3 linked regions of the Homo sapiens genome follow. The protein of the gene in region 2 interacts with the protein of the main gene of each other region in a pairwise test. Each region holds a gene or a part of one and is shown on either strand. Other genes may lie near its edges.

Region 1 (3,653 bases), on a different chromosome or scaffold from region 2:
ACAATCTGATTTCTCTTTCTTATCCCCACACCAGGCTGGAGTGCAGTGGTGTGATCTCGGCTCACTGCAAGCTCTGCCTCCCAGGGGTTCACGCCATTCTCCTGCCTCAGCCTGCCTAGTGGCTAGGACTACAAGTGCCCACCACTACACCTGGCTAAGTTTTTGTATTTTTAGTAGAGACGGGGTTTCACCGTGTTAGCCAGGATGGTCTTGATCTCCTGATCTCATGATCTGCCCGCGTTGGCCTCCCAAAGTGCTGGGATTACAGGCGTGAGCCACCATGCCCGGCCTCCATGCTGGGTTAATTTTTAAATGTTTCGTAGAGATGGGGTCTTGCTTTGTTGCCCAGGCCGTTCTCAAACTCCTGGGCTCAAGCGATCCTCCTGCCTTGGCCTCCCGAGTAGCTGGGACTACAAGTGAGAGTCACCATGCTCAGCAAGAGCTCATTTAGTCCAACCCAGGGGAGGGTAGAAGTTAGCGCCTCAGCCAGGACTCTGCATCCTACAAAACAGATGAAGTCCGGGGTCCCTCCAAGGGTCCTGTGAGAAACTGAGACATTACTGTTGATATAATTATGAATTCTTATTTTATTTATTTATTTTGAGACAGTCTCACTCTTATTGCACAGGCTGGAGTGCAGTGGCGCGATTTCGGCTCACTGCAACCTCCACCTCCTAGGATCAAGTGATTCTCCTGCCTCAGCCTCCCAAGTAGCTGGGATTACAGGCGCATGCCACCATGCCAGGCTAATTTTGTATTTTTAGTAGAGATGGGGTTTCACCATGTTGGTCAGGCCGGTCTTGAACTCCTGACCTCATGTGATCCTCTGGCCTCGGCCTCCCAAAGTGCTGGAATTACAGGTGTGAGCCACCATGCCCAGCCATGTATTCTTCTCAGAGACAGAAGTGTATAAACCTTGGGCTCCTCTCAAAAAGCAGTTTGGTCCCTGGTTTCAGGTGTCTTCTCTTAATTAAATGGGGACTCTAATAGCATCTACTTCAGAAAGCTGTTACGAGGGTTAGTCCTCATAATTAATATTTGTAAACTCTTGGAGCCTGGCACAGAGTCAGTGTCCTGCCTACCTCCTAATAACTCCACCAGTTAGATGGTGATGACCCCTCTTGCAGAAGAGGAAATCGAGGCTCACAGAAGCCAAGTGACTGGCCTGGGCCACACAGGCAGCAGTAAGCAGAAGCAGGATTTCAAACCAGTTTTCCTGGACTCCTGTTGGGGTCTGGGCTCTACAGCCAACTCACGGTGTGGGCAGTCCCTCAGCCTTCTTGAGCCTTGGTTTCTTCACATATAAAATAGGGATGCTAGACTTGCAGTGTGCTGAGATCTGGGAGGTGATGAGGTCAGGCAGGGCCTGCTCTGTACTTAAAACTCTGTGAGGTCTGGGCGCGGTGGCTCACGCCTGTAATCCCAGCACTTTGGGAGGCCGGGGAGGGCGGATCACCAGGTCAGGAGATCGAGACCATCGTGGCTAACATGTTGAAACCCTGTCTGTACTAAAAATACAAAAAATTAGCCAGGTGTGGTGGTGGGCGCCTGTAGTCCCAGCTATTCGGGAGGCTGAGGCAGGAGAGTGGTGTGAACCCGGGAGGCGGAGCTTGCAGCTCACTGAGATCGCGCCACTGCACTCCAGCCTGGGTGACAGAGTGAGACTCTGTCTCAAAAAAAAAAAAAAGAACTCTGTGAATAGGCCAGGCGCAGTGGTGTGTGCCTGTAATCCCAGTGACTCGGGAAGCTGAGGTGTGAGGATTGCTTGAGTTCTAGACTTGTTTGAGTAACACAGCGAGACCCCGTCTCTATTAGAAATTTTTTAGGCTGGGCATGGTAGCTCACGCCTGTAATCCCAGCACTTTGGGAGGCCGAGGTGAGAGGATCACTAGGGGTCAGGAGATCGACACCAGCCTGGCCAACAGGGCGAAACCCTGCCTCTACTGAAATACAAAAGTTAGGGGCGCTGTGGCTCTCGCCTGTAATCTCAGCACTTTGGGAGGCCGAGGCGGGTGGATCGCTTGAGCCCAGAAGTTCAAGACCAGCCTGAGCAGCATGGGGAAACCCCATCTCTACAAAAAATACAAAAATTAGCCGGGTGTGGTGGTGTGCACCCGTAGGCCCAGCTACTTGAAGGGCTGAGGCAGAAGGATCTCTTGAACCTGGGAGGTCGAGGAAGCTTCACTGAGCTGAGATTGCGCCACTGCACTCCAGCCTGGGTGACAAAGTGAGACCCTGTCTCATAAATAATAAACAAGAAAGAAAATACAAAAATTAGCCGGGAGTGATGGTGCACACCTGTAATCCCAGTTACTTGGGAGGCTGAGGCAAGAGAATCACTCAAGCCTGGGAGGCGGACGTTGCAGTGAACTGAGATTGTGCCACTGCACACCAGCCTGGGTGACAGAGCAAGAGTCTGTCTCAAAAAGAAGGAACTCAGTGGAGTGGTCCTTGTTGTCACCTTCTGATTCACTGGAGTCCAGCACCAGAGTGTGGCAAGATACCTTGTTCCCACACAGCCCCTTGCCATGCCCCCAGAGATGTGTGCATTTCCCAGGGAGGCCACTTCTGCCTTTTCCATTTCCTTGAGGCTCCTGGGAGGTCCTGTGCCTCCACCCCTGGGGCGCCTCCTCCATCACCCCACCCTCCTGCTTCCTTTCTTGCTTAGGCTGTGAAGTGTGTGAGCTCCACAGGCTCAGGTGGGTGGGGTGAGAGGGGAGGGTGCTCGTCCTGGACTTGCCGGCACAGGGTCTCCTGGGGGCTCCCTCTTGGCCAGCTCTGGGCCAGAGATGCGTTTTGCAGTTGCCATTTGCGCATGGATTCTCAGCCCCACCAGCCTGAGTCTTCCTGAGGGCGGTGCCCCATCTTCCTGGCTCTGCGCCCACACAGTAGCGCCTGCCATGCAGTTCTTGCCCAGTCTGAGGCAGGAATAGCTGGAGGCCATTGTCACCTGATCGCTTGGCCCTTTTGCCAGCATCCTGTTTTGAGGGGCAGCAGGAATGGGGGTGGGGGCCTTGTGTACGCTGGAGACCAAAAGTGGGAAGGGAGGAGCCCAGCTCTCCACAGTGGGTTCTGGGCCTGGGGGCCACAGCAGGGGGTTCATACAGGGCTCAGGGGAGAGAGGAGGCTTGCTAGCTCCCACCTGGCGTTGGCTGATCCTCTGAGGGGCTGCGTTGGAGGGGTTGGCATTCTGGAACACCCTGCTGTCTGTCCTGCAGGTCCAGAAAGTCCCTGTGGGTGTGTTTGTCCCGGGGCAGGTGTGGGCTCCCTCAGATCTTTCCACACTGTTCTTTGGAAACCCTCACTGAAGTCTTTCCCTCCTCCAGCTCTGCTGTAGCTGCCACTGAGAAGAAGGCGGTGACTCCAGCTCCTCCCATAAAGAGGTGGGAGCTGTCCTCGGACCAGCCTTACCTGTGACACTGCACCCTCACGGCCACCCGACTACTTTGCCTCCTTGGATTTCCTCCAGGGAGAATGTGACCTAATTTATGACAAATACGTAGAGCTCAGGTATCACTTCTAGTTTTACTTTAAAAAATAAAAAAATAGAGACAGAGTCTCACCATGTTTCCCAGGCTGATCTTGAACTCCTGGCCTCAAGCGATCCTCCTGCCTTGACCTCCCAAAGTGCTGGGATTACAGGCATGAGCCAC
Region 2 (3,653 bases):
TAGCACATGGGGAGAGGATAGACAGGTCTATCGTTCTCAGTAGCACTACTAAATGCATATATACTACAGGCATATCTGCAACAAAAAAAATAACTTTCTATTCCTACTCTTAGGTCGATCAACTTCATGTAAGGTCTCCCAAGGATTTAAAAAATCAAAAGTTATGCCTATTTGTGTGTATGTGAGTGCGTGTGTGTGTGTGTGTGTGTGTGTGTGTGTGTATGCAAAGACAGGAAGAGTAATTAATGAGCTAGTTTAATTTCAGGACAATCACTGAATAAACCTTTATTTAGAAATAGTTGAAATAAAGATTTTTTAAAAAAGTATACATCTTTAGTAATATAAAATAAAGCTATTAGCTTATTAAATAAATTCTTTGTAATCAGATATGTTTATCTCCTCAATAAATCACTGTAAAACTACTCCCTTTTTTTGGAATAAATACTACTTGTTCAATTTTTATGAATTGGGAATGGAATTTATGCCTCCCACTGAGTAAGGAATTATGCACAAACTGTACACTTACTTATACTAATATGCTTTCATGCAATATTTGTAAAGACAACTCTATTTATCACAGCAAAAAAATTTCCATCGTAGTGAATACAGCAAATTTAAGTACCTGCTCAAGCATCAAAATTTTAGGTTCTAATTTACATTTAAAAATTAACTTGGTGACAAAAACATTTAATCCAATATATGTGTAGGTTCAATAAGTCCTAATACAACAAAAATAATTGACATTGGTGGACTCAATGAGTATTATTAAATAAAACAGTACACAGTTGTTTTATTTAATACTAAACAATATTATATTTAATTGAAACACAGGGTTTGAATTCAGGAAGGTAGTAATGGTCAATAATCTATGTATTTAAAGACTGTAGATATAACAGTATATTTTTCCAAACTTTAAAAAAAGAAAAAGCTAGCTGCTGTTGAGCTAATTGCCTTAGGAGGATGGTAGATTTCCTATTTCTTTGTTTAGAAATATATGGAGCCCATTTAATTTTAAAAAAAGAAAGAAAGGAAGGAAGAAAACATAATAAAAGGTGAGATCCCAAGGCATATCGTAGATGACAAGGGTTTAGGTAAAAGACAGGTTTCACATGTACTACTGAGCTTCTGGGACAGTGTATGAGCACCCTGGACACAGATATGGGAAGGAGCCTCTAGAGCAGAAACCTAAACTTCAGCCATTCAAGTACCATCTTTGCAATTTTTGCCATACTTTAGAGTACTATAACCTAATATTTTTCTTTACAGTGATTTGCATTTTTCCTCAATACTCATTTTTACCTTACTCTAAAAAATATTCATGTAATCACTGACTTAATGTGCTAGTTGTGTTTTTTGCTCACCCATAAAAATAGATTTAAAAAATTTAAAGGGTTGTCTTTGTGTCATCTAAAGTCATCTTATAGACCACAGTTGGGAAACCACACTGCAGACCACACTGGGTTGTAGAGACAGGCCCAGCCACACATATGGTGTTACAGGGCATAGAAACCAATACAACCAGCAGGAAACTCCTATGGACAGGTAATGGGTGTTGAATATCAAAGTCTTGCTTGGATTACATTTACCCTTGATTTCAAAAAATCCTGTAGTTCACAACAATGTTTTGTTAGGTTTGAAGGAAGAAGGGAGAGGTCCTAGATTTCCAGAGTCAGGAAAAAAAAAAAAAAAAAGCACTAACATTTATGGCATGTTTACCATGTGCCAGATATTGAACTAAGTTTTAGCTCTGCATGAGTAATTTCATTTAAGCTATACAATGCTATGAGGTACTATTATTACTTCATTTAAATAAACAATTTGTACATTTCATTTATAAAGAGATTGAGGCTTAAGAGAACTTAAGACATTTACTTGCTAGCAAACAGATATCAGGATTTGAACATGGGTCTTTTGACTCCAGATCCTAGACACTTAACCACTAAGATATGTTGCCAGACTTTCAGATGACTACAAATGTTACATCTACAAACTGACATTTCGGTTGGTAAAATACAAGGGCTAAGCTAAAAGTAAAAGAGTAAAAATCACTATTTCTTTCCAAAAAAGAAAAACCACTGCCTTTCATTAAGGTGTTTCAGAATGTGGAAGACACATCTTAAATCAATTAACTTAATCCTAATAATAGATTCATTAAAACTTCACTGAAGAAAATCTGGAAAATACCAAAAAGTAGAAAAAAATAAAAATGACCTGTAAGCGCGTGACTCAAAATATCATATTAACATGTTATTGTTCCCTTTCAGACTATTGTAACTAATAGATTATAAATACACAAACACATATACATGTGCGCATGTATTTATGAGATTAAAATTGTACCTATATCCTTTTTCCTACCACATGGAAAATATAAAGGTTTTCATGTCATTGTTGCATAACTTAAAAAGGAAAATCAATATTCAGTTTCTGAACTTACTCTGACATTCTGAGGAAAAAGAAATTTCTTGTAAAAGTGTGTTAATAACATTTCTTTTGTTCAATTGTGTTTAAAATGTGAAGATAAAAGTAAAAAAGATTGCCTTGTTAAGCATAGGCAGTAAAGCAAGTTAAAAAATACTAAAAATGAAAATGTATGCCAATTAAAGATATGTATCAGATATGCTATACAAAGGAAGTTTTACAAATTAAGGCAGAACTTCAAGATCCGGGAGGAAGAAAGAGGTAAAGTATAGTGATCCATACATTCTTTATGTTAACATGTAATGGATTTATTAGTGATATTTTAAAATGAATTAATAAACACTTAAAAATCTCACTTTTATGTATTTAAAATAAATTTCATTGTATATATTTAAGGGATATAACATGATGTTGTGGGATATGAATAGACAGTAAAAAGGTTACTAGAGTGAAGCAAATTAAAATATGAAAACATGCTTATCATCACTGGCCATCAGAGAAATGCAAATCAAAACCACAGTGAGATACCATCTCACACCAGTTAGAATGGCAATCATTAAAAAGTCAGGAAACAACAGGTGCTGGAGAGGATGTGGAGAAATAGGAACACTTTTACACTGTTGGTGGGACTGTAAACTAGTTCAACCACTGTGGAAGTCAGTGTGGCAATTCCTCAGGGATCTAGAACTAGAAATACCATTTGACCCAGCCATCCCATTACTGGGTATATACCCAAAGGACTACAAATAATGCTGCTATAAAGACACATGCACACGTATGTTTATTGTGGCACTACTCACAATAGCAAAGACTTGGAACCAACCCAAATATCCATCAATGATAGACTGGATTAAGAAAATGTGGCACATATACACCACGGAATACTATGCAGCCATAAAAAATGATGAGTTCATGTCCTTTGTAGGGACATGGATGAAGCTGGAAACCATCATTCTCAGCAAACTATCGCAAGGACAAAAAACCAAACACCACATGTTCTCACTCATAGGTGGGAATTGAACAATGAAAACATATGGACACAGGAAGGGGAACACCACACACTGGGGACTGTTGTGGGGTAGGGGGAGGGGGGAGGGATAGCATTAGGAGATATACCTAATGCTAAATGACGAGTTAATGGGTGCAGCACACCATCATGGCACATGTATACATATGTAACAAACCTGCACGTTGTGCACATGTACCCTAAAACTTAAAGCATAATAATTAAA
Region 3 (3,646 bases), on a different chromosome or scaffold from region 2:
TCTTGGATTGCACCAAATCACTGCTTGGAAAAACTCATTTTTTTATTTACTTTTTGTTTTTCTTTCTTTTTTTTTTTTGATTTTGTTTTTGAGACAGTCTCTTGTCGCCCAGGCTGTAGTGCAGTGGTGCAATCTCGGCTCACTGCAACCTCTGCCTCTCGGGTTCAAGCAATTCTCCTGCCTCAGCATCCCAAATAGCTGGGATTACAGGTGCTTGCCACAACGCCTGGCTAATTTTTATATTTTGTTATAGATGGTGTTTCACCATGTTGGCCAGGCTGGTCTCAAACTCCTGACCTCAAGCGATCTGCATGCCTCAGCCTCCCAAAGTGCTGGGATTACAGGTGTGAACCACCACGCCTGGCCTGGAAAAACTCTTATTTTATTATGAAACAGTAAGAATTTAGTTTGGATAAGAACATGGTAAGGAGAGGATGGGAAGCATTTTGTAGTATCATTTGCAGCTGGGTAACATTGCTTCTGGTAAAAATAAGGAAAAACAAGTGAGCATCTGGCTCTGAAATCAGTCTGTGTTCCCATTCTAAATTATAGAAGTACAAGATTGGTGAGTAGCAACCACTGGTTTAGAGATCGTGCGTGCAGGCCAGGTGAATCTTTTATGTATAACAAGGGTGGGTTGAGTCAAATAGAGTCAGGTATAAGTGGAAACAGTTTCATTACCTTTGGTAGGGAGGCCATAACTAATAATTTTTAATGACCAGTCGTGAGCTGCGATTTTAATGGGATTAAACTTGAATATCTCCAAATATGTATTAATTACATTCAATTAATCATTATGTGCTAGCCATTATTTTAAAGACTACATGTATTAAGTCACTCTCTTACCAATAGTGAAGTAGGCACTATTACTGGCTCTATTTTATTGATGGGGACACAAGTGTAGGGAGATTAAAGGCCTTGCCTAAAGCCAGGCACTCTACCCCAGGTCCTACACGCCTCACCCATCTGCCAGGTGCCTGGGCTTTCTACTCTCCTACTCACAATTAGTCCCAGCCTCATTCTGGCATCAGGTGGCAGGTATATGACTGTGGGCAGATGGTTGGTTACGATTATGATAATTCATTATTACGACATCTGGGTGATTGTTTTTTAAATTTTGCTGATCTCATCTTGTAGGCCTTAGAAATTAAAGTGCTGTACAAGTCTGCCTCAGTTTATGAAATAGTTGGATCAGAGAGGTTGTAAACAAATTGAATAGAAAGTGAAGTTCAAATGGCCAGAATGCCTTTTTTTTTTTTTAATTTTTTTTTGAGATGGAGTCTCGCTCTGTCACCCAGGCCGGAGTGCAGTGGCTCGATCTCGGCTCACTGCAACCTCAGCCTCCAGAGTTGCTAGGATTACAGGCGTGAGCCACCACACCCAGCTAATTTTTGTATTTTTAGTAGAGACGAGGTTTCACCATGTTGGCCAGGCTGGTCTCAAACTCCTGACCTCAGGTGATCCACCCGCCTTGACCTCCCAAAGTGCTGGGATTATAGGCATGAGCCACCGGGCCTGGCCCAGAATGCCTCTTAAATTTTGCAGTCAGGCCGGGTGCAGTGGCTCACACCTGTAATCCCAGCACTTTGGGAGGCTGAAGCGAGGATCGCTTGTGCCCAGGAGTTCGAAACCAGCCTGGGCAATGTGGCAAAACCCCGTCTCTACAGAAAATTAGCTGGGCTTGGTGGCGCATACCTGTAGTCCCAGCTACTGGGGAAGCTGAGGTGACAGAATCATCTGAGCCCGGGATGTTGAGGCTGCAGTGGGCCGAGATCAAATCACCACACTCCACCAGCCTGGGCAACAGAGACTGTCTCAAAAAAAATAATAATAATTTTATAGTCAATCTTTTAAAGCAGGTAGTGTCATCCAGTATTTTTAAAAATCTAAAAAGCAAAAAAGGGATCTTAAGAAAACATCTAGTCCAAGTTGCTCATTTTACAGATGAGGAAGTAGAACCCTGGAGAGGGACAGTGACTTAGCCTTTGTGTTTCTTATCAATTCAATCCTATTCAAACCACATTCCCATCCAGAAAAGTGCTTAGAAGGAAGCGAAGGGCATTGCTATGAATTTCAATTTCAAATTAAGTACAAATTTGGATATCCTTTGGTCAATAAATTGGTTATCTAGCCAAAGCCTTTCTGAAATTAATAATATGCTAACAGGATATTTGTTTCTGGATGTTTGCTTAAAGTGCTCTTGCAGCAGTGGGGCTTCTATTTCACAATAGCGAGGCTTTATCTTTTGATTAAAAATTAACAGGAAAAATATTCTTGGATTTTCCATTGTAAGTAAGATAAATTCTTACCCTGGAGTTGCCTTTATTAATCATAATATCAAGACTTATTTGTCTTTGAAGGCCTGTGTGTCAGGGCAGCGCCACATCTAGGAGGTTAAATGTGACAAACGTTTAGTAGTCCACATAGAGCCAAGAGCACTAGGCTTTGGGCTCCTATAAAAGCCCAAGATGGGAAGCCTTAAACTCTGCTTCTTTTCTCTGCCTGTAGCCAGGTCAGCATGGATCCGCATCCTTTTTATTTGACAAGGTAATTACAAGCGTGGGGCCCAAGCTAGAACTGAGACGCTAAAACCCTGCATAACCAAGAAGCTACTAGGTAGTTTGTAGTTTGGGGCAGAGTTTGTTCTTCCACTAAAATCCTGTCTCCTAAAATAAACCAAAAATTAGAATTAGGGGAGTTAAGGAACTTGTTTGTCATATTGGAATTAAAGTGTCCAAAATTACATCGCCACAGAGGTTAGATTTACTTCCCCTTTCACTCCCACCCCCACCCCGCAAAAAGAAGAGGGAAATTCAATTCATTTCTGCATTTGAGGGAATCTGGCCTTTGGAGGAGTTTGGTGTGTAGTTGCCATTACAAAAGGGAAAGTGTCAGGATGGTTTTCATGTGTATTTGTTTTTTTAAACAAAGAATGATATTGTTGACAGAAATGTCACATTTGTTCATTCAGCGAACACCCTGAGTGCCTACCAAGTGCCAGATACTTATTGTTGCTCCTGACAGTGGCCAACACACCTGGATGTGTTATCTTGGAATTATGAACAGATTCTGGGTAACACAAAGAAGGGGCTGGAAGAGTTGAGAAAATTTCAGAGAAGGGAACATTTGAGTTAGGGATAGTAAGTTTTTATTAAATGACCACCTAGGCTGTGTCACAAAAGCCAGCTGGACATGCCATCTGCTGCCGGGGTAGTGGGGGGTGGCTAATTAATGACAGGCTCCTCCAGTGTATTTTCAAATGAGCTAGCGCCGAGCCTGTTGAGGGCAAGTGGCTGTAATTCATCATGATCGTTTTCTTTTTCAGTTTAGAAACCTGCTGAAGTGGTATGCTAAGGAGTTCAAAGACCCACTGCTACAGGAGCCCCCAGCCTGGTTTAAGTCCTTTCTGTTTTGCGAGCTTGTGTTTCAGCTGCCTTTCTTTCCCATTGCAACGTATGCCTTCCTCAAAGGTTGGTAAATGGTGGGAAAATCCCATTTTTACTCAGAAATCAGGTCCCAGAAATCTTTTGGGAAAGTATCTCCAAAGGGAAGGGGATGGTCCCCATAGTTTGTGGGAGAATGCTACAGGATCTGGGGTAAATAGCCAGGGTAGATCTTGTAAAGGGACATTAGTGTGGCTCAGGCT

Evidence for each region.
Region 1: the proteins of NDUFAF2 (region 2) and NDUFA7 interact in binary tests that used the Homo sapiens proteins (3 or more experiments, as listed by UniProt).
Region 3: the proteins of NDUFAF2 (region 2) and TMEM97 interact in binary tests that used the Homo sapiens proteins (3 or more experiments, as listed by UniProt).

What each region holds. Positions count from the first base shown.
Region 1 is NC_000019.10:8,311,269-8,314,921, reverse strand, and holds the end of NDUFA7 (NADH dehydrogenase [ubiquinone] 1 alpha subcomplex subunit 7), read left to right. Parts: intron 1-3,326; coding exon 3,327-3,417; 3' UTR 3,418-3,638; downstream 3,639-3,653. UniProt on the Homo sapiens protein: Accessory subunit of the mitochondrial membrane respiratory chain NADH dehydrogenase (Complex I), that is believed not to be involved in catalysis. Complex I functions in the transfer of electrons from NADH to the respiratory chain.
Region 2 is NC_000005.10:61,067,165-61,070,817, reverse strand, and holds part of NDUFAF2 (NADH dehydrogenase [ubiquinone] 1 alpha subcomplex assembly factor 2), read right to left. Parts: intron 1-3,653. UniProt on the Homo sapiens protein: Acts as a molecular chaperone for mitochondrial complex I assembly. Complex I functions in the transfer of electrons from NADH to the respiratory chain. The immediate electron acceptor for the enzyme is believed to be ubiquinone.
Region 3 is NC_000017.11:28,322,178-28,325,823, forward strand, and holds part of TMEM97 (sigma intracellular receptor 2), read left to right. Parts: intron 1-3,325; coding exon 3,326-3,470; intron 3,471-3,646. UniProt on the Homo sapiens protein: Sigma-2 receptor which contributes to ameliorate dysfunctional cellular processes and slow degenerative progression by regulating cell functions including cholesterol biosynthesis/trafficking, membrane trafficking, autophagy, lipid membrane-bound protein trafficking, and receptor stabilization at the cell surface.